Homo sapiens: one gene and its partners. The protein of the gene in region 5 purifies or fractionates together with the protein of the main gene of each other region. This does not show direct contact. Each region holds a gene or a part of one and is shown on either strand. Other genes may lie near its edges. The genes, in order: HS2ST1, FAF2, RMND1, UGCG, SLC35D4, ANKLE2 and DNAJC11.

Region 1 (3,500 bases), on a different chromosome or scaffold from region 5:
TTTTCACGTTCACCTGGAACATTTACCAAGATAGTTTTTTTTTATTTGTAATTGACAAAACTGTATATATTTATCATGTACAACATGTTTTAAAACATGTATATATCATGGATGGCTAAATCAAGCTAATTAAGACAACATGCATTACCTCACATACTTTTTTTTTTGGTATGGTGAAAACACTTAAAATCCACTCTCTTAGCAATTTTCAAGAATACATTGTGACAGGAGAATGAGGGAAAGCTTCGGGAACCATGTCTTTAGGTAAGTGAGGCAACAGAATCAGGTGCACAAATGACCGAACAGGAGCACTGACAGTTACCATCTATTGTTAACAGGCAGAAAGGCAGAATACGTAAGTACAGGTACTGGTAGGTGGGTAGATCTTAAAAATAACTAGGCTATAGTGAACCATGATTATGAAGTTCATCTATAAGTACATCCTTCAAAAATGGTCTTCTGGAGAGCAATCTTTGAACATTCATTATTATTTCAATTTCTCTAAGTGCCAAAAAGCTATTAGAAGGCCTACCAGAGTGGTGGACAGACATCCTGGAATTATCTTAATTGAGATCAACTATTTCAGGTGACTACTCCATGGCACTAGACATCCTATTCAAGACTAAGTGAGGCACCAATTACCAATTCTAGAATAACTGTATTCCTATTAACCCAAAGTCCTCAAAACAGTAGCTACTATGAGGTTTTCCAAATGATTTCAGAAGTGAGGAAATCTAGCATTCTCTGGAACATCTTACAGGTATTGCTGCATGGTTTCAGGAACTTACTTGTAAAAACTACCAAATTCCAAAAAGCAGTCTCAACCTTGGCCCTGGAATTAGTTGTTTAGTCTAGTAGAGTTTTAAGAACATAATGACTAACATTAATTCTCACCAATGGATGATTACATAATCCATTCTCAATTATTTTCCCCATGTAAAAGATTATTCCTAATGTGCTCATAAATCCATATAGAGATGTAAGAATACAGTCAACAAATATTATTTACAATGCTAAAACCCTATAGAAAATAAAGTTACCAAGCACATAGTTCTATCACTTATGTGAGAAAATATTTCACTGCACTGTTCGACCAGTCAATATTAGCAACAAGTGCGCTCTTGAAATTCGGGAAGAACTACTTTTTACCAGCCACAAATTCTGACATTTTATAGTAACGAGTCACAGTTAAATAGTTTTCATTTGGATTCCCTGTCCTTTTCCATTTCTCACTAGAAAATTAAGTCTACATTTTAATACAATGAAGTATTAACTTCATTTGAAGTTGAAAAACTTCTCTTTTTCACAGGTAATAAGCTTATCTCCTAAATTTAACTCACAATCTGCACGTTATGTTACTAAAAACAAAAAAAAGTCCACTAAATATGAAACATCTACTATAAATCTGTGATCCTTGCCATTAAAGGAATCACATACTCCTTTGCAAATCTGATGAAAGTTATGTATATAATTTCAGGGAATTCACTGATACCTTGAAGCCTATTTATGGGTCCCCGAGGTTTAAAGAATCTCTGATTAATGGAAAATAGCATCCAAAATTGATCCAAGAACATATGAAAACTTAGTATGTGATTAAAAGAAGGAATGTTAACATACAGTTGGAAAAAATGATTTACTGAGAAAATCATGATAAATCTCTGTAAACATACAAATGGTTTAAAGAGCCAAATGTAATAAACTATAAAATACTATAATAAAATACAGAAAATGTACACAATCCTGGCTCTGGGTAAGTCTTCCTAAGCAAAATATGAAAACGACTTCCCTAAATTGATAGATTTAACTGTGTGTATTTTAAAACTTCTATATGAGCAAAACACACCATAAAGTCAAGAAACAAATGGCAAACTTGGACAAAAACAAATAAGAGGCCGGGTGCAGTGGCTCATGCCTGTAATCCCAGCATTTTGGAAGGCAGAGGGGGGCAGATCACTTGAGGTCAGGAGTTCAAGACCAGCCTGGCCAACATGGTGAAACCCTGTCTCTACTAAAAATACAAAAATTACCTGGGCGTGGTGGCACGTACCTGCAATCCCCGCTACTTGGGAGGCTGAGGCAGGAGTGAGCCGAAATCGTGCCACTGCACTCCAGCCTGGGTGACAGCAAGGCTCATCTCAAAAAAATAAATAAATAAATAAATAAATAAAAATAAAAAAAATTTAAAAAAGACATAGGATAGATAAAGGATTACTAATTCTAATATTTAAAAAAAAAAGTAAACCACCCAATAGAAAAATAGAAAAAAGTAACAAATAAAAGGGCAATAAACATGTAAAGATGTTCAACCTACCTAGAAATTAGAAGGTAAATTAATTGAATATATCATTTCACAGCTTCACACTGGCAAAAATTAAAAGCTGATTATCTTCTAGTGCTAATGAATGTGTGCTGGCAGTGTAGATTACTACATCTTTTGAAAAACAAAAAAATGTTGAAAAGTAGATTTTTAAATCTGTTAAATTATAAAATATGTATATTCTTTGTCCCAGCAATCTCACATACAGAATTCATCCTAGCACAAAATGACATCAACATGAGTTAAACGGACACATAAGGATGTTTCCTATAATTGTTTATAATACCAAGAAAGAAAAGAAACACTCAAAAAAATTATATATATATGTATATATACACACGCACACACACGACAGATGGGGGACAAACTGAATGTCCGTTACTAGAATAATGGCTTAATAATTTATGATACATGCATACTTTGGAATATTATACAGCTATTATTAATAGAATGAGTAAGTCACATCTATATGTACTGACCTGGAAAGATGTGTATAACATTCAAGGCAAAAAAAGCAAGCCGCATTGTAATATGTGGACTACAATGCCATATTTGTTTTTTAAAAAATAAAAATAAAAAGCTGTATTACTGAATTTTTTTTTTTAGGAATTCCTAATTAGTGAATTTCCCAAGTAGTCAATGAGTACACCTCAGTTTTGAATACATCTATTGCTCTATTAGAAGTCTCACCATCAAAATACTGTACTCTCAAATCAAGGTATATTAAAGCCACTATCAGACAATACTATCCTTTGGAATCTTCTACAATGAAAATGATAATAACTACTTTTAAGGACAAAATGTTTAATAGGTTTTTTATGCCAAAATAAAAATGCTTTTTTAACATTGTGATTTTGCACGTATGGAAAACAGCTAGATTTTTCTTTCCTATAGTAAAAATAAGCTATCTAATTCAGTTGTTTCATTGGGTAACATAATTATGTTCATTACATGAATCTAAACAAGGGGCAGACGTTACATTAAACCAATTCCTTTGTATCAGAAATTCAATTTTCTCTGAATGATATTCATTCTTAGCAATAAATGCAATTAAACACTGATATTACAATTTTAAAACTCTATTCAAATACCTAAATCTCAGCGTAATGTCAATATAAAGTCTTAAGCAGCCGGACATAATTAAAGGAGCACTTGATTTGGAATCATACATACCTGGGTTGCA
Region 2 (3,500 bases), on a different chromosome or scaffold from region 5:
CCACCCTTGACCATGTCAGCAGTCGTACAGTGTAATGTGCTCAGGAGCACGCACATGCAGGAGCACGCACAGGAGTCTTCGGCGCTAGCCTTGTCTTTGAAAGTCTTTTACACCCTATGCTCTTTAGAATGCCTTTGGATCGTACAGTCCATCATTCCTACTCGATATGTGGCCTGGGATCAGGGTTGTCTTCGCAGTTATTTTTTACTTACAAGGATGTTGTAGCTGTGAAGTAGAAAAATTCTCACCTCCCTTTCATATGGTCAGATTCTCCTGTTTTTATCTTCCTTAGACTGTGGGTGCAGCTGACTTTTCTGTGGTTTGTTGGGAACCTGTGTTTGTAAGCCTGTCTACTCTCATGTGTCTGTTAAGTTTGAATCCTAACAACACTAAAACCTTTTCATTAAAGCTTGTTAGCGTGGAGTTTCTATAGGGAGAACAATGCCAGGGGTGTGAAGGTAGGAGCTCAGGAATTTTCTGATTTCTTGCTCACCTTTTTTCCTTATTTTTCCTTTTGTTCCTAAATACATAACTGTATCCATTAGGACCCTTAGCTTAAATATAAGCTCAAGGCACAGTCTTCTTAATAGTGAGTGACCTTCTCTTTCTCACAGGCACTTAACGATGCCAAAAGGGAGCTTCGCTTTCTTTTGGTTTATCTTCATGGAGATGATCACCAGGACTCTGATGAGTTTTGTCGGTAAGTGGATTGATTATTTTCCTTCTCTTTTCTGACTCTTTCTGGTGACAGTTTATAGTCAGCAAGTTGTTCTCATATCCTTTTCATACCTTTCCACAGCAACACACTCTGTGCACCTGAAGTTATTTCACTAATAAACACTAGGATGCTCTTCTGGGCATGCTCTACAAACAAACCTGAGGGATACAGGGGTAAGTTATGTTTCTTCTGCCTCATTGAGATTGTTGGAGTATCTTTGGAATAGTCTGGAAAGACATGCCATGCCATTTATTACAAGTGTGTTTGTTCTGTGGTAGATACGACGCTAGTTGCTATTTTATATTGTCTCATTTAATCCTCTCAGCAGTCCTGAGAGATGGGGGGTCATATTACCTTTGCTTTATGGTTTAGGAAATAGGCTCAGAGAGTTCAAGCCACTGGCTGAAGATCACACAATTAGCAAGTTTTATTTTTTTTGTTTTTATTTAATTAATTAAAAAAATTTTTTTGAGATGGAGTCTTGCTCTGTCGCCCAGGCTGGAGTGCAGTGGTGCGATCTTGGCTCACTGCAACCTCCACCTCCTGGGTTCAAGCGATTGTCCTGCCTCAGCCTCCTGAGTAGCTGGAACTACAGGCATGCACCACCACGCCCAGCTAATTTTTTTGTATTTTTAGTAGAGATGGGGTTTCACCATGTAGCCTCAAACTCCTGGACTCAAGTGAGCAGCCCACCTCAGCCTCCCAAAGTGCTGGGATTACAGGTGTGAGCCACTGTGCCCCGCCATAATTAGCAAGTTGTAGCGTACAGTCGGGTCTGCCAGATTCTAAAGCCCGTTCTTCACATTCAGCATTGCCAAAGCCTGCCACATTCATAGAAATACCCAGTCTTGGCTAGCAGCTTGCTTTTAATCTTAATGGGCTTTTTACTGAAGAGTTTATTCTTTTCATCAACGATTTTAACAGAGCCCTTGCATAGTGAGTCAGTTGTTTGAGTACCTTGAGTGCTGATATGGATTTGGAAAGTTCAGATCTTTGCTGACAATAACTCTTCTTTGGAGATAAGTATTTTTAGACGGTTAGTAAAAGATACGAAGGCATCCAGTGAGGAAAAATGTAGTCATTTTTGTGGCTACTTCTATCCAGCAACTTTTGAGTTTATATTAGCATGCCACATACTGTGCCATGTCTTGAGAACCAAAGATGTGGCAGATGTTGTCCCTGCATCCCAGAGTCTGAATCTTAAGCCTAATTGTTTTTAAACATCCAAATTCCTGCATGCGTTTTGCCATTCTAATATGGCTTTGCAGGGGGCAGAAGGGAGGTTGTGAATAGAAGGAAGGTAAGGATTTTTTTTTAATAGAAGTTTATAAAATCTCTTATTTCACACCATAAGGAAAACATAGGTAAAACTCTGTTATGGTAAAAATCTTGGTCATTTGGACACCAATTTTTTTTTTTTTTTTTTTGAGACCAAGTTTTACTCTGTCACCCAGGTTGGAGTGCAGTGGTGCGATCTCAGTTCACTGCAGCCTCCACCTCCCGGGTTCAAGCGATTCTCCTGCCTCAGCCTCTCGCCTATCTGGAATTACAGGCGCGTACCACCACACCCTGCTAATTTTTGTATTTTTTGTAGAGATGGGGTTTCATTATGTTGGCCAGGCTGGTCTCAAACCCCTGACCTCAAGTGATCCAACCACCTCCGCCTCCCAAAAGTGCTAGGATTAAAGGTGGAGCTACCAGCCCAGCCTCAACTTTCTATTAATAAGCTTCTTTGGAACAGAAAAACTAACCTTTTTAAGGGTGGAGAAAAGTTACGTGGGGAGAAAGGATAAGGAAAGGATTAGGCAAGAGAAAAAAAAATGATGATGGAGATTATTATCAGTATCATCAGGCTGAGACTTGCAGCCTTGTGCCCTTTTAGGTTTGAGCCCTTGTACAGGGAAAAACTGTGCCAGATTCTTTATAGATCCTTTTTGTACCATCAAGTAGACATTATCCTTAAACTCTGCAGCCTTCCCTGGCATCATCACAACAACCACACCGCCACCAGGAAAGCCTGTCCTATTCTAGTCAAGCACCTAGGGATAGGCATGCAAATTGATAACAAAAACAAAAGATTACAAAACTGGGAGGAACTGGGCATGGTGGCACACTCCTGTAATCCCTGCTTCTCAGGAGGCTGAGGTGGGAGGGTCACTTGAGCCCAGGAGCTGGAGACCAGCCTGAGCAACATAGTGAGACCCTGGCTCAAAAAAAGAAAAGAAAGAAACTAGGAGGCGGGGAAAAAGCGGAGACTAAATGATACCTCTCGTCTTCCCCAACCAGGATTAAAACAGTTCTCTCTCACTCATTGTGGAAAGTCTAAGGGTTGATCTTTTTCACCGTCAAGTCCTGCCCTTGATCTGTTGGGTCTTTTTATCAGTCTCACAGGCTTTACGAGAGAACACCTATCCATTCCTGGCCATGATTATGCTGAAGGATCGAAGGATGACTGTGGTGGGACGGCTAGAAGGCCTCATTCAACCTGATGACCTCATTAACCAACTGACATTTATCATGGATGCTAACCAGACTTACCTGGTGTCAGAACGCCTAGAAAGGTACAAGGGAGTTCCCTTCTGGAACAGAGAGAGACCAGTTGTAAATTTGGAGGGCTGACCTCTGGGGCTCTACCAATCCTGACTTCTTCTGTGCATCAGGCCGCTATTAGCTTTTAGCTTTGCCCATTTATTGTCAAAATATTTACATACTTTGACCTAAATTACTCTATATCAGGTAATCTGTTCTTAGAGATGTTCAAAATAAAGACAAGGGCTGGGTG
Region 3 (3,500 bases), on a different chromosome or scaffold from region 5:
ATAGAAATTTACTGTGAACGTTCTCCTTTTTATTAACTATCCTTCCAAAACACACTTTTAAGTTTTTCTTGTGTGGAGTGACTATTACTGAGCCAACCCCTACTGAACATTTGGTTTATTTCCTAATTTTTTACTCTTAAACACTGACCTTTTTTTTTTTTTTGGAGACAGAGTCTTGCTCAGTCTCCCAGGCTGGAGTGCAGTGGCGTGATTTCGGCTTACTGCAAGCTCCGCCTCCCGGGTTCACTCCATTCTCCTGCCTCAGCCTCCCGAGTAGCTGGGACTACAGGCGCCCGCCACCACACCCGGCTAATTTTATTTTGTGTTTTGAGTAGAGACGGGGTTTCACCATGTTAGCCAGGATGGTCTCAATCTCCTGACCTCGTGATCCACCTGCCTCGGCCTCCCGGAGTGCTGGGGTTACAGGCGTGAGCCACCGTGCCCAGCCAACACTGACCATTTTTTTAAAAGTTTTCAGCTGGGCAAGGTGGCTCGCACCTGTAGTCGCACCACTTTGGGAGGCCGAGGTGGGTGGATCATTTGAGGTCAGGAATTCAAGACCAGCCTGGCCAACATGGTGAAACTCTATCTCTATTAAAAATACAAAAAAAATTAGCTGGGTGTGGTTACGCATGCCTGTAATCCCAGCTACTAGGGAGGCTGAGGCAGGAGAATCGCTTGAACCTAGGAGACTGAGGTTGCAGTGAGCTGAGATCGCACCACTGCACTCTAGCCTGGGCGGCAGAGTGAGACTGTCTCAAAAAAAAAAAAAAAAGTTTTCTTGTATACAAATTTTTCTTTGCATCTTAGATTATTTCCTTAGGATAAACTCCTAGAAAGGGAATTACCTGGACCAAAGGATATGAGAACATTTGTAACACTCTTGATACAAATTGTCAAAATGACCTCCAGAAAGATGATATGGTGTCTTTTTCAAAGGAAAAGTTAAAGTGCTTTTTAAGATTTAGAAGGTATTATCTTTTTGCTTTTCACAGGGGACAGTCAAAACTTCACAGGGGGGAAATCAAGTTAAATTCAGAGCTGGATTTAGATGATGCCATTCTAGAGAAGTTTGCTTTCTCCAATGCTCTATGCCTTTCTGGTAAGTTACTACTGCTTATGGGATAGGGTACTACAGTTGTCATTTCACTGAGGGAAGTTTAAATAGTCACGATTTTGGTATATTTTCAGAATACTCAACAAAGCCTTAGCATTCCTTTTCCTTTTTTTCCCTCCATCAGAAAAAATATCTAGTATAAAAGATAGTACTGTGCTGAAGTTACTCATTCCTTATTAATTGTATTAATAAAGCTTAACCTCTCCAAAAGTATTTTTTAGATGATGATTATATTAGCCTTTGTTTTTTTCTCTTCTCTCTATGCGATTGTTATTCTTAGATAGTCTCTAATCCAGACAGAGAAGCCCAGCCTTGTGTGACTGGGCACAGGTCCCAGTGTAGAAAAACATACTCTAGTGTTCCATAGGAATGGGACCCAGAGTCACAGTGGCTATAAGTTTGTTCTGAAAGATCCACATCCCGAATAAAACTATACAAGTTCTTTAAGAATTTCTTTTGCCAGCAGTCTACCTTAGGTGGCTGCTGCAGCGTCCTGTCCATCCCACTCTGAGGGGCTTCGGAGATTTCTGAGGTTTACTCTTAGTCCTGAGGAGTGAAGGGGAGGCCAGGAAAGTCTTAGTCGCGCCCTATCTGCAGAGCTACCCATGGTATCAAGGTGTACCCTACCCTCCTCAGTTTCCAAGATGTAATACTAGAAAATCAAGAGTTCTACTAAATGTAGCTTTGGTCTTCCAATAGGGCATGGAAAGCGATTCAGTTTCCTCTATCCACTTTAATTCTGTCCTTTATGATAATTAACTATTCTTAAATTATATTTTCAAGGTTTTAGTACTTTTTCTTAAACTATTACTGAAATAGTAGTGAAGATGCTGTGCAATTATGTATTTTATATACATGTGAATATGATGATAAAGAAATGTTCCATTATTAATTTTTTTCCCAGTAAAACTGGCAATTTGGGAAGCATCACTGGATAAATTTATTGAATCTATTCAGTCAATTCCTGAGGTAATTATATCAATTTTATGCTTATTCAAGGATTGATTTTTATATGTAAAAAATATGAATTTCCCAATATAACAATATATAGCTATCCATCAGTATCCATGGGAGATTTGTTCCAAGACCCCACTGGATACCAGAATCTACCAGTGTCCAAATCCCTGATATAAAATGGTATATATTTGCATATAACCTATGCATATCCTCATGTATACTTTCAACCATCTCTAGATTACCTAAAATACCTAATATAATGTAAATACTATGTAAATAGTTGTTATACTGTATTATTTAGGAAATAATAACAAGAAAAAACAGTTTGTACATGTTCGGTACAGATGCAACCATTCTTTTTTCTCAAAATACTGTCAATTTGCAGTTGGTTGAATCTGCAGTTGCAGAACTTATAGAGGGCCGATTGTTTAGGAGTACAACAACATTATTACAAACAATAAGAAAACTACAGTAAACTTAAGAACTCCCAGTTACATATAAAATGACAAATTAAGAAACTTCATATTGATTACTTTTTACTTTTTAAAACTTCAAATTGTTTCCTCTGTTGGTGCAGTATTTTTTTTTTAATATTAATATAATTGAAATGGGGTCTGGCCATGTTGCCCAGGCTGGTCTTGAACTCCTGGGCTCAAGCGATCCTCCTGCCTCGGCCTCCCAAAGTTCTAGCATTACAGGCCACGAGCCACCATGCCCGTCAGTTGCAGTATTTTTAATGTAACTGAATTAAAGAAAAAAGTGAAATGTTTCTCTCTGAGAATGGAAATTATGACCACTTTTCCTGATTTAAGAAAGTGTTTTGCTAAATTATGAGAAAAATAGTGGTATGAAAAATACATATAAAGTTATATTGAAATTTCAGTATACATTAAAAATCATCATATTGTAATTAACTGTGTCTTTATTGTGAAAGAGTAATCTAATTATACTTCGGAAAGGAGGCCCTGCTTTTCTACTAAGAGATTAGGAATGTATATATCATTGAAAATGCTGATGAGAAGGGAAATGAAAAAAGAGAATATACAATTTCTACCTAATAAAATTATGAAATTTCAAGGTGAGTTAAGACATTAATCTGGGAGACAGCCATCCTAAAAAATATTTACATAGGATCCAAATTATGCCACTTCAGATTTTGCCCTGTTGACCTAATGCTTATTAGAAAGAGAGATACATGGTTTTTTGGTTTTTCCGATTCCCTCTCAACTAGGCTTTAAAAGCTGGGAAGAAAGTGAAACTATCTCATGAAGAAGTTATGCAGAAAATCGGTGAACTCTTTGCTCTAAGGTAAAAGTTTTCTCTCTAAATAAAATATTTCATATATTTAACAATCTCAAGAAAACATTCCCATAGTTCTGTGGTGAAGAGCAAACATTTACACGTTTATGGGAACTGTAGCTGTTTT
Region 4 (3,500 bases), on a different chromosome or scaffold from region 5:
TGGTGAAAACCAAATACAATGGCAAATGTTCCACAGGAGACTAAAGTTAAACCACTGAAATCACGCATATCTGAGCATGAACAGACAAGGCATTTGTGTCACCAAGAAGTCAAGGAGACCCAAAATAAACATTTACGTGACTGCCAGGCGCAGTGCCCTTTCATATTTGCATTTTGCCTGGTGTGAACATCGTTTTACCAGAGTATGGAAATGTTTTCATTTTGGACATAACTTTCTCTTCTAATATTCGATTGGGACTATCATAGGCCATTTGGGGGAAAATAATAAAACATATCTTCAAGTTTTAAAATTTTACTTAATTTTGGACATGTGCAAGAAAATTTACTGCTACTGGTACTTGCTCTGAATTTCTAGGTTTCAATTTTGGTGAGACTAGACTAGTTGCTCTGAAAGATCTCTGCGCTGTATTCATCTTACAAGTCTACTTTTATACTGATACTCATTCCTTGGGAAGACATAAAAGAATGAAAAGGTGATGCAGTTCATTTTCCACAGCATTGAACACTCATTTGTCACCAGCGTAGAAGGGATTTGGGGAGAGATTAAGCAGTAGCAGTAATAGTCAATAATCTGCGTCTAAAGTGGCTTGCTGGCTTTACTTCAGTAAATTCTGGCCATGTGAAGAATACCTAAATCAACTATCAGAGTTCTTAACAGTGAACCTGTCATAACTATGATTTTTTTTTCTTTTTTGCAATTATAGAATTGATTTTTTTTTTCCTTTTGAGGCAGAGTCTTGCTCTGTCACCTGTGCTGGAGTACAATGCCACAATCTCGGCTCACTGCCACTTCCGCCTCCCGGGTTCAAGCAATTCTCCCGTGTCAGCCTCCCGAGAAGTTGGGATTACAGGCGCATGCCACTACCGCTGGCTAATTTTTATATTTTTAGTAGAGAGAGGATTTCATCATGTTGGCCAGGCTGGTCTTGAACTCCTGACCTCAGTTGATTCCCCTGCCTCCGCCTCTTAAAGTGCTGGGATTGCAGGTGTGAGCCACCGTGCCTGGCCTGATTTAACAATTTTAATACAGGGATTCTTAGCAAATAAAATATCTCATCAAATTGTGAAGACACAGAGCTGATAGCTGAAAAATGATTCCTGGTTAAAATCTGATACTTTAGAAAATACTTGGAATGCTGCCTCCAATTTGGTGTAATTTCCAATATCAAAAACAAATGAATCTTATGTATTTGAGTCTGAACTTTTTTTTGGATAATATGAATATGAGTCTCATTTACACTCTGGCTAATCAGAAAGTATTTGTTTTTAATTAAAAATTATGTTTAAGCAGTGTAATCAATAAAAATTAAAACTTCAAGGCCGGGGGCGGTGGCTCACGCCTGTAATCCCAGCACTTTGGGAGGCCGAGGCGGGCGGATCACGAGGTCAGGAGATCGAGACCACGGTGAAACCCCGTCTCTACTAAAAATACAAAAAAAAAATTAGCTGGGCGCAGTGGCGGGTGCCTGTAGTCCCAGCTACTCGGGAGGCTGAGGCAGGAGAATGGCGTGAACCTGGAAGGCGGAGCTTGCAGTGAGCGGAGATCGCGCCACAGCACTCCCGCCTGGGCGACAGAACGAGACTCCGTCTCAAAAAAAAAAAACAAAAAACAAAAAAACAAAAAAAAACACTTCAAACCTTGCATCTGAATAAAGGCAGACTGTACCTCCCTTACTTATAACCTCCCTACTTAACACTAGTATAGCATTTTTCTTCCCATTGAGTATATTTCTAGTACTATATTTTTACAAAGTTTTCTCTTGCTGGGGAAAATAAAAGCTAAGATTAGTTTTTTATTGTACTTTATGGAATTGCATTACTTATAAACATTTCCTTTCATCATATGTACTCATACTCACAAAATAGCATTAAAAAAGCATTAAAGGCTGGGCATAGTGGCTCATGCCTGTAATACCAGTACTTTGGAAGGCTGAGGTGGGCAGATCACTTGAGCCCAAGCATTCAAGACCAGCTCGTCGTCTGTACTAAAAATACAAAAATTAGCCAGGTGTGGTGGTGCACACCTATAGTCCCAGCTACTCGGGAGGCTGAGGTGGGAGGATTGCTTGAGCCTGGGAAGTTGAGGCTATAGTGAGCCAAGATCACGCCACTGCACTCCAGCCTGGGTGACAGTGAAAGACCCTGTCTCAAAAAAAACCATTAAAGATACTATGCTGGCTGGGCACAGTGGCTCACACCTGTAATCCCAGCACTCTGGGAGGCCGAGGCAGGCAGATCACGAGGTCAGGAGATTGAGACCATCCTGGCTAGCACAGTGAAACTCCGTCTCTACTAAAGAAAAATACAAAAAATTAGCCGGGCGTGGTGGCGGATGCCTGTAGTCCCAGCTACTCGGGAGGCTGAGGCAGGAGAATGGCGTGAACCCTGGAGGCCAAGCTTGCAGTGAGCTGAGATAGCGCCACTGCACTCCAGCCTGGGTGACAGAGCGAGACTCCATCTCAAAAAAAAAAAAAAAAAAGAAACTATGCTATGTTTGGAAAAACAAGGAACTCTTTAGAGCAAGCCTGGCTGAGCAGCCTCCTATAGTAGGAAAGCTCGTTGTTACTTTTGCCGTTTGAAAAGTCACTTAACCTCTCTAATCATTATTGTGAAGGTCATTGCCTTTTTGGTGGCTCAGCCAAATATTGTTTTGAGAGTCTGGATGGGAGGCTGACTGACACTTTCTGTGACTTAGAGTCAGCTCTTAAGGAAATCTCAGGAGGGTGGTAGAAGTAGGGCCCTTTCCATTTTCAGATTTTTATCTGGTCTCTGGAGACCAGGTAACTGTCAAGTTGGTTTCAGTACCTCTTGAGTGGCAATTTTCGTCAGTCATCATTAGAGGTAGATATTGGATAGAATATATAATAACAGCAGTATGTAGGTAGAAAGTATGAGGAAAATATACATTGTTTTCCTCATCGACTTAATTATTAAGAAAACATGTTTTTCATTTGACAAAAAATCTTATTAGCTAACCTTCTTCATTAACCTTAGTCTTGGTTCTTTTGTGATCAACTGCAAATTTCTTTTATTTTTATTTTCCCCGAGACGGAGTTTCACTCTTGTTGCCCAGGCTGGAGTACAGTGGCGCAATCTCGGCTCACTGCGACCTCCCTCTGCCTCCCAGGTTCAGGCGATTCTCCTGCCTCAGCTTCCCAAGTAGCTGTGATTACAGGTGTGTGCCACCATGCCTGCTAATTATTGCATTTTTAGTAGAGACGGGGTTTCACCATGTTGGTCAGGCTGGCCTCGAACTCCTGACCTCAGGTGATCCACCTGCCCTGGCCTCCAAAGTGCTGGGATTACAGGCTTGAGCCACCACGCCTGGCCCACAAATTTTTTTATTGGCAGTTTTTGCTGAGATTATAGGTAGTGGGCAAACAATTGTTATTATGCTCACAGGCACTATAAACATTTTATTTCTACTTTTTACTTGTGTATGCTTATCATTGGAAGTAAATATAACAGACTTTGTCGTTC
Region 5 (3,500 bases):
TGCAAGCTCTGCCTGCCGGGTTCACCCATTCTCCTGCCTCAGCCTCCCGAGTAGCTGGGACTACAGGTGCCCGCCACCACATCAGGCTAATTTTCTTTTTTTTTTTTTTTTTTTTTGTATTTTTAGTAGAGACGGGGTTTCACCGTGTTAGCCAGGATGGTCTTGATCTCCTGACCTCGTGATCCGCCCGCCTCGGCCTCCCAAAATGCTGAGATTACAGGCTTGAGCCACCGCACCTGGCCATATCTCACTCTTTGTCTAGCTGGTCAAGAACACATTTCCATGAAGCTTCACGTCTTCCTCAGTTGTCCTGCCTCCAAATGCCAGGAAGAGTTTGGAGCTCCCTTTGCTATGGCTCTGGCCACACAGTGGCACTTTTGAAAATAGTTCCAGCGCAGGCAACTACATCTGTCCACTGCTGTGCCAGCGCCCTTGCTGGTCCAGAGATCTGAAGAGCCATGGAGACCTGGATTCTAATTGTACCTGTGCCCCAGTTTCATTGTTAATAAAGTGAGACTTTGGGGATAGGTAATCTTACTGTTCTAAAAGCCTCTGGTTTCCATTAAGATAGGATGAGGACTGCTATGATTATTTCTACTTTAAGGCAACTGAACCTGAGACAAAAAGGTGGGAAGGGGGATTTGGTTAAGGTTACGAGGGTCAGTAAGCACAGTGAGGAATAGAAATCCAGGCGCTGGGTGTGATTGGGTAGGCCTGCTGCTTACCCACGGGCCCTCTTTGCCTTTTGGGTGTGAGTAACTTGACATCTTAATCCATAGCTGTTCAGCCTCCCATGACTGCTGATGCAAATTGGAACAAACTTTGCAGGTCATTAGGGCCAAACAGGCTGAAATACACATGGGGAAACCTAATGCCTGTCTTTAGTCCTGCCCCAAGAATGTGGCTGTGAACTAGTCTAATCTAATGAAGTGAAGGTACACATTTCTGTGACATTTGGCCTTAGGTGTGTTCAATTAATTCAGTCTGCTTCCAATTCAACCTGACAAGCATTTAGTTAATGTGTACCGTAACTGAGGCACCATATTAGGCTCCGTTGAAAATACGAAGAGCAGCCCAAGATTGGGCTTTTCCTGCTCAGAGTTTATGATCAGTATTGGAGCTGCGCACCAGTGCCTGTATAAGGTCAGATGGAAGTGTGGCAGTCAAGGGTCTGGAGATGCAAATGAAGTACAACTCACAGGGCTTGCCTCTCTAGCTTGGAGTTACAACTGCAGTCATATCTCTTACTTTGCAATTTTCAAGTTCAAATAACAGTCACACTCAAACCACCACTTGCACATATTTGCATGAAGTCAGCCTTTCTCTCTCTCTCTCACATACACACACACACACACACACACACACACACACACACACACACACACTGTCTGTCTCACCTCTTCCCCAGTTGTCCTGCCTTCAAATGTCAGGAAGCATTTGGAGCTCCCTTTGCTTTGGCCTTGGCCACACAGGGCACTTTTGGAAATAGTTGCAGCACAGGCAACTACATCTCCATCCACTGCTGTGCCCTCGCCCTTGTTGGTCCACACTCCTGAATAGCCCCAAGATGCTGCCCCTTCCTCAGGTTCTCGAGTGGGGATCTTTCCATTCACACACATGTGTAGGCACCATTTCCAAAGCATACCTCCTATGGCAGGACAGCCTGGTTTGGGGGACTTCTGGCCTCAGCCATATGTGTCACTGAAGCCAGCCTTCCCCTTCAGATTCTTTTGAGCCTGGAGGCCAGTCCAGACTCTCTCTTCTCACATGGTGAGTTTCCCTTTGGAAGTCTTTTCCTGCCAGTTTATCTTGCTTGAAAAAAATTTAAGCTCTGCCTTGCCAAGCACCAAAACTCCAGAAGTTCTATGGGAAGGAACAAGAGGTGTTGTCCTCCACCTTTTTTTTCTTTCATGATTTAGCCAGAGGCCTCTGAAATTTCTTTGCACCATTCCTCTAATCAAAATTCTCCCACCATAGCTCCTTAGAAAAGCAGAGCTTAATGACTTTAAAATTTTTTTTATTTTCATCCAGAGATCACAGATCTAGAAAACACAGATGAGGTAGAGGTTGCATAATAATTTGAAATTGATTGGTAAAATGTAGCAGACACTAGTCAGCCATTGGCTAAGGGAAGACAAGCCTCACTAACAAGAGAATCTTTTCTCCTTCCAGTGGATTTTTGGGATTCTTTCTCATGTTCAGTACAGTGAAGCTAAAAAACCTTCTGGCCCCAGGGCAGTGTGCAGCCTGGATTTTCTTTGCTAAGGTAAGAGACAAGAGGGGTGGGAAATTCTCTCTCAAGAGCCTGTGTATCCAAAGATCTCAGAACCTGGGTAATGTGAAGTTGTTTGAGCTTCATGAGACCACTTCTAGGCGCTGTCCCTGAGCCTGATCCTTCCTTCATTCAGGTAACGATTTCTGAGGCCTGCTCATTTTATCAACATGGCATATTTCATCTTTCTTACAGTCCTGGAAGACAATCATGGATAGGCTCCTTATTTCCTTCCTGGAGGCTGTGCAGGTGTCCAGAGCTCAAGTGACTTACACAAGGGGACTCAGTCGATCCAAGGTGATAGAGAAAGGAAGATAGACAAATGGCCAGGTTGGGGCATTTCTATGAAACCTTAGAAAAGGGATTATTCTAAGAACAACCTCTGTGTATCCGAATGACTATGGGGGAAGCATAAGATAAAGTGGTGGGGGAACCACAAAGAAACAGAAGGAGCGGGGAAGTGGCTGTGGGATGGCCAATCTTAACTGAAACATGGTGGGGCCAACTTCTGTTGGCACGTTTCATTTCCTTAGTGCCTGTGAGGGAGGCAAGTTGTAGAGCTCTAGATGCTGCTTTCAAGGAGTAAGCCTCCTTAATTAATTAAATTTAATTTAATGAAATCATTATTTAACTTGGGCTTTTAGTCATCTTTGTGTTTTATGGGTTGAAGTTTCTCCAGAAAAAAAACCTCAAACATTTTGCTTTGAAAATAAGATTTTTAATGATATTTTCACCCCCATGCATTTTTTTGTTTTTGTTTTTGTTTTTGTTTTGTTTTGTTTTGAGACAGGGTCTTACTCTGTTGCCCAGACTGGAGTGCAGTGGCATGATCTCAACTCATTGCAACCTCTGCCTCCCAGGCTCAAGCGACCCTCCTGACTCAGCCTCCCAAGTAGCTGGGATTACAGGTGTGCGCCACCACACCCAGCTAATTTTTGTATTTTTAGTAAAGATGGAGTTTGACCATGTTGGCCAGGCTGTTCTCAAACTCCTGACCTCAAATGATCCACCCACCTCAGCCTCCCAAAGTGCTAGGATTACAGGTGTGAGCCACTGTGCTCGGTCCACATGGCCTATTTTTTAATAGCATTAATAATTCCAATTCTAGCAGAATGTAAAAAGTAGCTGAGATATTGATTTCTGGCATGACAGAGTGAGGAGGTTGATGAAACCTCTTCCCAAAAAACAGCTAGAAAGCTGGAAGAAAACTGTCAAAAACATCCATTTC
Region 6 (3,500 bases), on a different chromosome or scaffold from region 5:
GGGTCTGACGGGATGCGCACATCTGTTTCTCGTCTCTTGGTGTTTTTAACGTAAAGGTCTGGTACTTTCCCTTAGGTTAGTATTTTTTGAGACGGAACCTCTCTTTGTTACCCAAGCTGGAGTGCAGTGGCGCAATCTTGGCTCACTGCAACCTCCACCTCCTGGGTTCAAGCGATTCTTCTGCCTCAGCCTCCTGAGTAGCTGGGACTACAGGCGCCCGCCACCACGCCTGGCTAATTTTCGTATTTTTTTTTTTTTTAGTGGAGATGCGGTTTCACCGTATTGACCAGGCTGGTCTCGAACTCCTGACCTCGTGATCCACTAGAGTGCTGGGAAGGTTAATGTTAAATGGGTTGTGTGTCGGGGAGGGTACATGAAAAATAATGGCATCGCTTTGAGCAGTATTGCTGTTTCTGCTTGTGTTTGCATTATCCAAAATCTAATATAGTTTCATTCTGTGCCGTTTTCTCAAAACTCATAATAGCTGAACTCCATTGGCTGAGCCTGATATTTTAGATTTGGTATATTTTCAGGAAAAAGACGAGTGCACATCAGAATACTGGTGTATATCAGACACCAGGGCACGAAGCGCCTTGCACGGTGCGTATCAGACACCAGGACGCAGAGCGCTTCACACAGTGCATATCAGACACCAGGACGCAGAGCGCTTCACACAGTGTATTTCAGACACCAGGACGCAGAGAGCTTCACACGGTGCATTTCAGACACCAGGATGCAGAGTGCTTCACACGGTGCATTTCAGACACCAGGATGCAGAGCGCTTCACACGGTGCATATCAGGCACCAGCACGCAGAGAGCTTCACACGGTGCATATCAGACACCAGGACGCGCAGTGCTTCACACGGGGTATATCAGACACCAGCACGCAGAGAGCTTCACACGGTGCATATCAGACACCAGGACGCAGAGAGCTTCACACGGTGCCTGTCAGACACCAGGACGCAGAGCGCTTCACACGGTGCATATCAGACACCAGGACGCAGAGAGCTTCACACGGTGCACGTCAGACACCAGGACGCAGAGAGCTTCACACGGTGCATATCAGACACCAGGACGCGCAGTGCTTCACACGGTGCATATCAGACACCAGGACGCAGAGAGCTTCACACGGTGCATATCAGACACCAGCACGCAGAGAGCTTCACACGGTGCATATCAGACACCAGGACGCGCAGTGCTTCACACGGTGCATATCAGACACCAGGACGCAGAGAGCTTCACACGGTGCGTATCAGACACCAGCATGCAGAGCGCTTCACGGTGCATATCAGACACCAGGACGCAGAGCGCTTCACACAGTGCATATCAGACACCAGGACGCAGAGCGCTTCACACAGTGTATTTCAGACACCAGGACGCAGAGAGCTTCACACGGTGCATATCAGACACCAGGATGCAGAGCGCTTCACACGGTGCATTTCAGACACCAGGATGCAGAGCGCTTCACACGGTGCATATCAGACACCAGCACGCAGAGGGCTTCACATGGTGCACGTCAGACACCAGGACGCAGAGAGCTTCACACGGTGCATATCAGACACCAGGACGCGCAGTGCTTCACATGGTGCATATCAGACACCAGGACGCAGAGAGCTTCACACGGTGCATATCAGACACCAGGACGCAGAGAGCTTCACACGGTGCGTATCAGACACCAGCACGCAGAGCGCTTCACGGTGCGTATCAGACACCAGGACGCAGAGAGCTTCACACGGTGCGTATCAGACGCCAGGACGCGCAGTGCTTCACACGGTGCATATCAGACACCAGCATGCAGAGAGCTTCACACGGTGCGTATCAGACACCAGCACTCAGAGAGCTTCACACGGTGCATGTCAGACACCAGCACGCAGAGAGCTTCACACGGTGCATATCAGACACCAGGACGCAGAGAGCTTCACACGGTGCGTATCAGACACCAGCACGCAGAGCGCTTCACAGTGCGTATCAGACACCAGGACGCAGAGAGCTTCACACGGTGCGTATCAGACACCAGGACGCAGAGAGCTTCACACGGTGCGTATCAGACACCAGGATGCAGAGCGCTTCACACGGTGCGTATCAGACACCAGGATGCAGAGCACTTCACACGGTGCGTATCAGACACCAGGACGCAGAGCGCTTCACACGGTGCGTATCAGACACCAGGATGCAGAGCGCTTCACACGGTGTATATCAGACACCAGGACGCAGAGCGCTTCACATGGTGTATATCAGACACCAGGACGCAAACGCAAAGCGCTTCACACGGTGCACATCAGACACCAGCATGCAGAGAGCTTCACACGGTGCATATCAGACACCAGGACGCAGAGCGCTTCACACGGTGCATATGAGACACCAGGACGCAGAGCGCTTCACACGGTGTATATCAGACACCAGGACGCACACGCAAAGCACTTCACACGGTGCATATCAGACACCACGATGCAAAGTGCTTCCAAAGCACAGATGCACTGAATGGAAAGAGCATGATGGAAGAGGTTAATCTACAAAATCTAAAAGTGATTCATAAAAACATCAACGATGGCCGGGCACGGGAGCTCAGGCCTGCAATCCCAGCGGCCGGGCGTGGCGGCTCACACTATAATCCCAGCACTTAGGGAGGCCAACGTGGGTGGATTGCTGAAACCCAGGAGTTCGAAGGCAGCTTGAGCAACATAGTGAGACTCTGTCTCTATTTATTTTTTTAAAAAAACAGAAATTTGCTAATAACTAGAGATTCGAATCTGCTAAAATACAAATTAAAGCAGATATACAGTTTAAACTGTGTGTGTGTGTGTGTGAGTGTGTGTCTGTGTGAGTTTGTGTGTGTAAGGTCATAATAGAACCATTAGCCCGCAAGACACTTCATTTATAAAACAAACTCCCTGGAATGATAGAAAATGAAAATGATTGACATACATTAAACTAAGAAGCAGTGAATCTTCAACAGTCACGACCTGTGACTCTGAACCACAGAACTAGAGCGACGTCAGTGCCGTCGTTATACAGGAATCATTGAAGTCTGACCTTGCTGTGTTGTAGCTGATGGTGGCACAGAACTCACTTCTGTAAAGCGGCCTCATTTACAGTGTTGTCTTGTGACTATGTACATTTTAATTAGTAAATATTAAATAAAGTTGAGGCATTTCCTAAGTAGCAGGAGCCACAGCTCAAGTGTTCTGGATCCTCCTGTGGCCGCGGCCACCATCGTGAACACCAAACGGGACATTTCTGTTGCCTGTCGCACAGTGCTGCGCCCGGGAGCTCTTCTGTGTTATCTTCACACCTAAAGCGCAGCAGGGTTACTTCATGGAGTTGTTCTGGACGATCTTCGGGATCCTCTGGGGCACTGTGACACTCGGAGCCCCTGGGGTCGCAGCAGATCGGAGCTGGAGGGTGGCTGGGGGTGCAGGGCAGTCATCTCGCCCATCACCTGGGCTGCCCTTGGCGTTTTCATGTCCCTGCCTTTGAAAGAAAAGTCAGCCTGGCAGCT
Region 7 (3,500 bases), on a different chromosome or scaffold from region 5:
TTGGATACCTAACAGCATCTCAGATGTCACGTATCCAAACAGAACTCGATCCCTCCCTGTGCCCCCAGAAACGAAGAACCTTCAGAACCTGCTCTGCCCGAAGTCTTTCCCATCTCTCTCTCTTTTTTTATTTTATTTTTATAGAGACAGGGTCTCACTTGGTTGCCCAGGTTGGTTTTGAACTCCTGGCTTCAAGTAGTTCTCCCGCTTCGGCCTCCTAAAGTGTTAGGATTACAGGTGTGAGCCACAGCGCCCAGCCTCCTTTCCTATCTCAGTAAATGAGAGCTCTGGCCTTCTACTTGCTCTGTCCAAAAACCTTGGAGTCAGCCTCGATCTCTTTCTCTCCCACACTCCAAATCATACATATCTCAAAATCATCTCCTGAACATGTACTCCAAAATTGTATCCCCAGTCTCGCCATTTCTCAACCTCACTGCGGCCAGCATCTTTGTCTTAGTTACACAGCACCCTCCCCACGGAACCTGTCTCCCTCCTTGTGTGTCTGCTTTCCGTAGGAGAGTCCTTTTTAAAATTGAAGGCAGTTCACGTCTGTCTTCTGCCTAAAACCTCAGAGGTTCCCTCAATTCCAGTCGGAGGCCAAAGCCCTTCAGAGACTTTGGAGCCTACAATGCCCTCCGTGATGTAGTACTCCTCTCTACCCCAACCCCAGCCATCCTGACCCCCTGGAGCTATTCCTGGCACACACCAGGCCCCCTCCTGCTTATGAGGTGGCCTTTGCTATTTCTCAGTCTGCAGATAAATACGTGGCCATTTCCTTCACTCCCTGTAAGTATCTGCTGTCTGCTCAAATGTCCCCTAATTCACCTTGTATAACATAGTAGCCCTTCCCCTTGCCCCAGGTGATCCCCCCCACCATGTTTGCCATGTTCAATCTCCAACGAGCCAGTCTCCATCTGAAGGGCCATCTCCTGCACTCCTCATCAGACATAAGCTCTTGGACTTGGTCCATTTTATTCTCACCCGCACTTCTAGAACCTAAAACCCATCGTGGTACTTGAGAGGAACTCAGTGAGTGAATCAAAGTGGATCACAGCTCAGTTTTGGAAACAAAGCCAAATCACTTACCTAGATTAGAGCTGGCGTCAGCCATCTCTCCTCAGATAATATTTGAAGGCTCAGTACAGTGGCGCGCACACTTTGGGAGGCCAAGACAGGAAGATCACTTGAGCCCAGGAGCTCAAGGTGGTAGTGAGCTGTGATTGTGCCCCTCAGCCTAGATGACAGAGTGAGACCCTGTCACTTCAAAAAAAAAAAAAAATTTTTGTCTTGAAGTCTACCTTATCTGTTACTATATAGCTTTTTTAGTCTTCTTATGCTTACTATTTATTTTTTTTACCCATTCACATTTAACCTGTCTCTGTTTGTGTGTGTGTGTGTGTGTGTGTGTGTATATATATATATATATTTTTTTTTTTTTTGGAGACGGAGTTTCGCTCTTGCACCCCAGACTGGAGTGCATTTGGCTCACTGCAACCTCCACCTCCCAGGTTCAAGCAATTCTCCTACCTCAGCCTCCTGAGTAGCTGGGATTACAGGCGCCCACCACCACACCCAGCTAATTTTTGTATTTTAAGTAGAGACAGGGTTTCACCATGTTGGCCAGGCTGGTCTCAAACTCCTGACCTCAAGCGATCCTCCTGCCTCAGCCTCCCAAAATGCTAGGATTACAGGCGTGAGCCACTGAGCCTGGCCAAGTTTTGAGTGTTCTTTATCAATTCTGGAATTGCTTTTATTCTGGAAGAGCTTTTATTCTGGAAGAGTGTGATCAGGTATTGTCAGTGGCTACTCAGCATGTTTTCTTTTTCTGGCTTTTCAGCAGTTTGTGATGTACATAGATAAGGCTGTTGTTGTATTTATGATGCTTGGGGTTTCCTAAACTTCTTGCATCTGTAAATTTCCTTTTCCTCACTGGGGCTCTAATTACCAATATATTAAACTTAACACTCTTCCACGGGTTTCTGAGATTCTGTCCATGCATCCTCAGTCCTTTTCCTCTTGTTGACCAGGCTGGAGTGCTGTGGTACAATCTGCCTCCTGGGTTGAAGCGTTCTCCCGCCTCACTCAGCCTCCCGAGTAGCTGGGACTACAGACAGGTACCACCACGCCCGGCTAATTTTTGTATTTTTGGTAGAGATGAAGTTTCACCATGTTGGCCAGGCTGGTCTCAAATTCCTGACCTCAGGTGATTCGCCCACCTCAGCCTCCCAAAGTACTGGGATTACAGGCGTGAGCCACCACGCCTGGCCAAATTTTTTATATGTGGTCCAGAGTTTACACATTGGTCCAATAGGAGCTACTTTACTCAGCCACCACTGGAAGCAGAACCTCCTTAACTGACTAACTTTTGAAGTCTTCACTAACTTCTTTGGAAACCTCAGTTAAGAACTGAGATGTGACTCTCCAGTGACATCTGGAGGAGCCCATTCCTGTCCTCTCCAGCCTATGACTGAATGCACCTGTAGGGGACGTTGACCCCGTGAAGTGTTCCTCTTGTTGCTTTGGCTTGAGGTCAGCAGACACTGGGATCTTTCTTCTGTCACAGTGTCAGATCCATCAGCCAGACTTTGGAACGGGAGGCCAGAAGGTGGTGGACTGTGAAAGGAGCAGACTGCAGGCTCCTTTAACTCGCAGCTGCACGCAGCACAAGTTCTCTTCCTGTGCCTGACACCCCATTGCCCTTCCCTGGAAAACCTGATTCATCTTGGCTTTTTTTTTTTTTTTTTTGTATTTTTCCCCAGGCTCAACAGGGCCAGTCAGACATACTTCTTCCCTATTCACTTGACGGACCAGCTTCTGCCCAGCGCCATGTTCTATGCCACCGTGGGGCCTCTAGTGGTCTACTTTGCCATGCACCGTCTGATCATCAAACCATACCTCAGGGCTCAGAAAGAGAAGTGAGTTGACACGTCATGGGCATGTCACTAGCCAGCCCTGTGCCTCAGTTTCCTCACCCTTAAAATGGAGAGGATAACAGAGCCTCCTGCGTCGGGTGATGAGGAAACCTGAATTAAGTAATGCATGTAAAGCACTTAGGCTGATGTCTGGGTCACGATTGGTAAATGTTAACTATTTCTCCTCATTGTCCGTAGTTGGACTGCTGTTATCTCTTCGTTTGTAAATCTTACTCTCAGAAAGGACTGGAGTTTATAGAAGTGTTGGGCCTCGGCTGGGCGTGGTGGCTCACGCCTGTATTCCCAGCACTTTGGAAGGCTGAGGCAGGTGGATTACCCGAGGTGAGGCGTTCAGGACCAGTCTGGCCAACATGGTGAAACCCTGTCTCTACTAAAAAAATAGAAAAATTAGCCGGGCGTGGTGGCACGTGCCTGTAATCCCAGCTACCTGGGAGGCTGAGACAGGAGAATTGCTTGAACCTGGGAGGTGGATGTTGCAGTGAGCCTAGATTGCGCCATTGCACTCCAGCCTGGGTGACAGAGCAAGACTCGGTCTCAAAAAAAAAAAAAAAAAAAGTGTTGATCCTC

Evidence for each region.
Region 1: the proteins of SLC35D4 (region 5) and HS2ST1 purify together in Homo sapiens (affinity purification with mass spectrometry; one large-scale study listed by BioGRID and IntAct). This does not show direct contact.
Region 2: the proteins of SLC35D4 (region 5) and FAF2 purify together in Homo sapiens (affinity purification with mass spectrometry; one large-scale study listed by BioGRID and IntAct). This does not show direct contact.
Region 3: the proteins of SLC35D4 (region 5) and RMND1 purify together in Homo sapiens (affinity purification with mass spectrometry; one large-scale study listed by BioGRID and IntAct). This does not show direct contact.
Region 4: the proteins of SLC35D4 (region 5) and UGCG purify together in Homo sapiens (affinity purification with mass spectrometry; one large-scale study listed by BioGRID and IntAct). This does not show direct contact.
Region 6: the proteins of SLC35D4 (region 5) and ANKLE2 purify together in Homo sapiens (affinity purification with mass spectrometry; one large-scale study listed by BioGRID and IntAct). This does not show direct contact.
Region 7: the proteins of SLC35D4 (region 5) and DNAJC11 purify together in Homo sapiens (affinity purification with mass spectrometry; one large-scale study listed by BioGRID and IntAct). This does not show direct contact.

What each region holds. Positions count from the first base shown.
Region 1 is NC_000001.11:86,917,635-86,921,134, reverse strand, and holds part of HS2ST1 (heparan sulfate 2-O-sulfotransferase 1), read right to left. Parts: intron 1-3,500. UniProt on the Homo sapiens protein: Catalyzes the transfer of a sulfo group from 3'-phospho-5'-adenylyl sulfate (PAPS) to the 2-OH position of iduronic acid (IdoA) or glucuronic acid (GlcA) within the heparan sulfate (HS) chain and participates in HS biosynthesis.
Region 2 is NC_000005.10:176,493,385-176,496,884, forward strand, and holds part of FAF2 (FAS-associated factor 2), read left to right. Parts: intron 1-614; coding exon 615-700; intron 701-799; coding exon 800-891; intron 892-3,101; coding exon 3,102-3,279; intron 3,280-3,500. UniProt on the Homo sapiens protein: Plays an important role in endoplasmic reticulum-associated degradation (ERAD) that mediates ubiquitin-dependent degradation of misfolded endoplasmic reticulum proteins.
Region 3 is NC_000006.12:151,421,127-151,424,626, reverse strand, and holds part of RMND1 (required for meiotic nuclear division protein 1 homolog), read left to right. Parts: intron 1-995; coding exon 996-1,102; intron 1,103-2,021; coding exon 2,022-2,086; intron 2,087-3,305; coding exon 3,306-3,382; intron 3,383-3,500. UniProt on the Homo sapiens protein: Required for mitochondrial translation, possibly by coordinating the assembly or maintenance of the mitochondrial ribosome.
Region 4 is NC_000009.12:111,917,314-111,920,813, forward strand, and holds part of UGCG (ceramide glucosyltransferase), read left to right. Parts: intron 1-3,500. UniProt on the Homo sapiens protein: Participates in the initial step of the glucosylceramide-based glycosphingolipid/GSL synthetic pathway at the cytosolic surface of the Golgi.
Region 5 is NC_000018.10:23,350,962-23,354,461, reverse strand, and holds part of SLC35D4 (UDP-N-acetylglucosamine transporter TMEM241), read left to right. Parts: intron 1-2,172; coding exon 2,173-2,266; intron 2,267-2,467; coding exon of another isoform or gene 2,468-2,569; intron 2,570-3,500. UniProt on the Homo sapiens protein: Golgi-localized UDP-N-acetylglucosamine (UDP-GlcNAc) transporter that transports UDP-N-acetylglucosamine into Golgi lumen.
Region 6 is NC_000012.12:132,730,833-132,734,332, reverse strand, and holds part of ANKLE2 (ankyrin repeat and LEM domain-containing protein 2), read left to right. Parts: intron 1-261; coding exon of another isoform or gene 262-317; exon of another isoform or gene 318-474; intron 475-3,500. UniProt on the Homo sapiens protein: Involved in mitotic nuclear envelope reassembly by promoting dephosphorylation of BAF/BANF1 during mitotic exit.
Region 7 is NC_000001.11:6,639,317-6,642,816, reverse strand, and holds part of DNAJC11 (dnaJ homolog subfamily C member 11), read left to right. Parts: intron 1-2,759; coding exon 2,760-2,915; intron 2,916-3,500.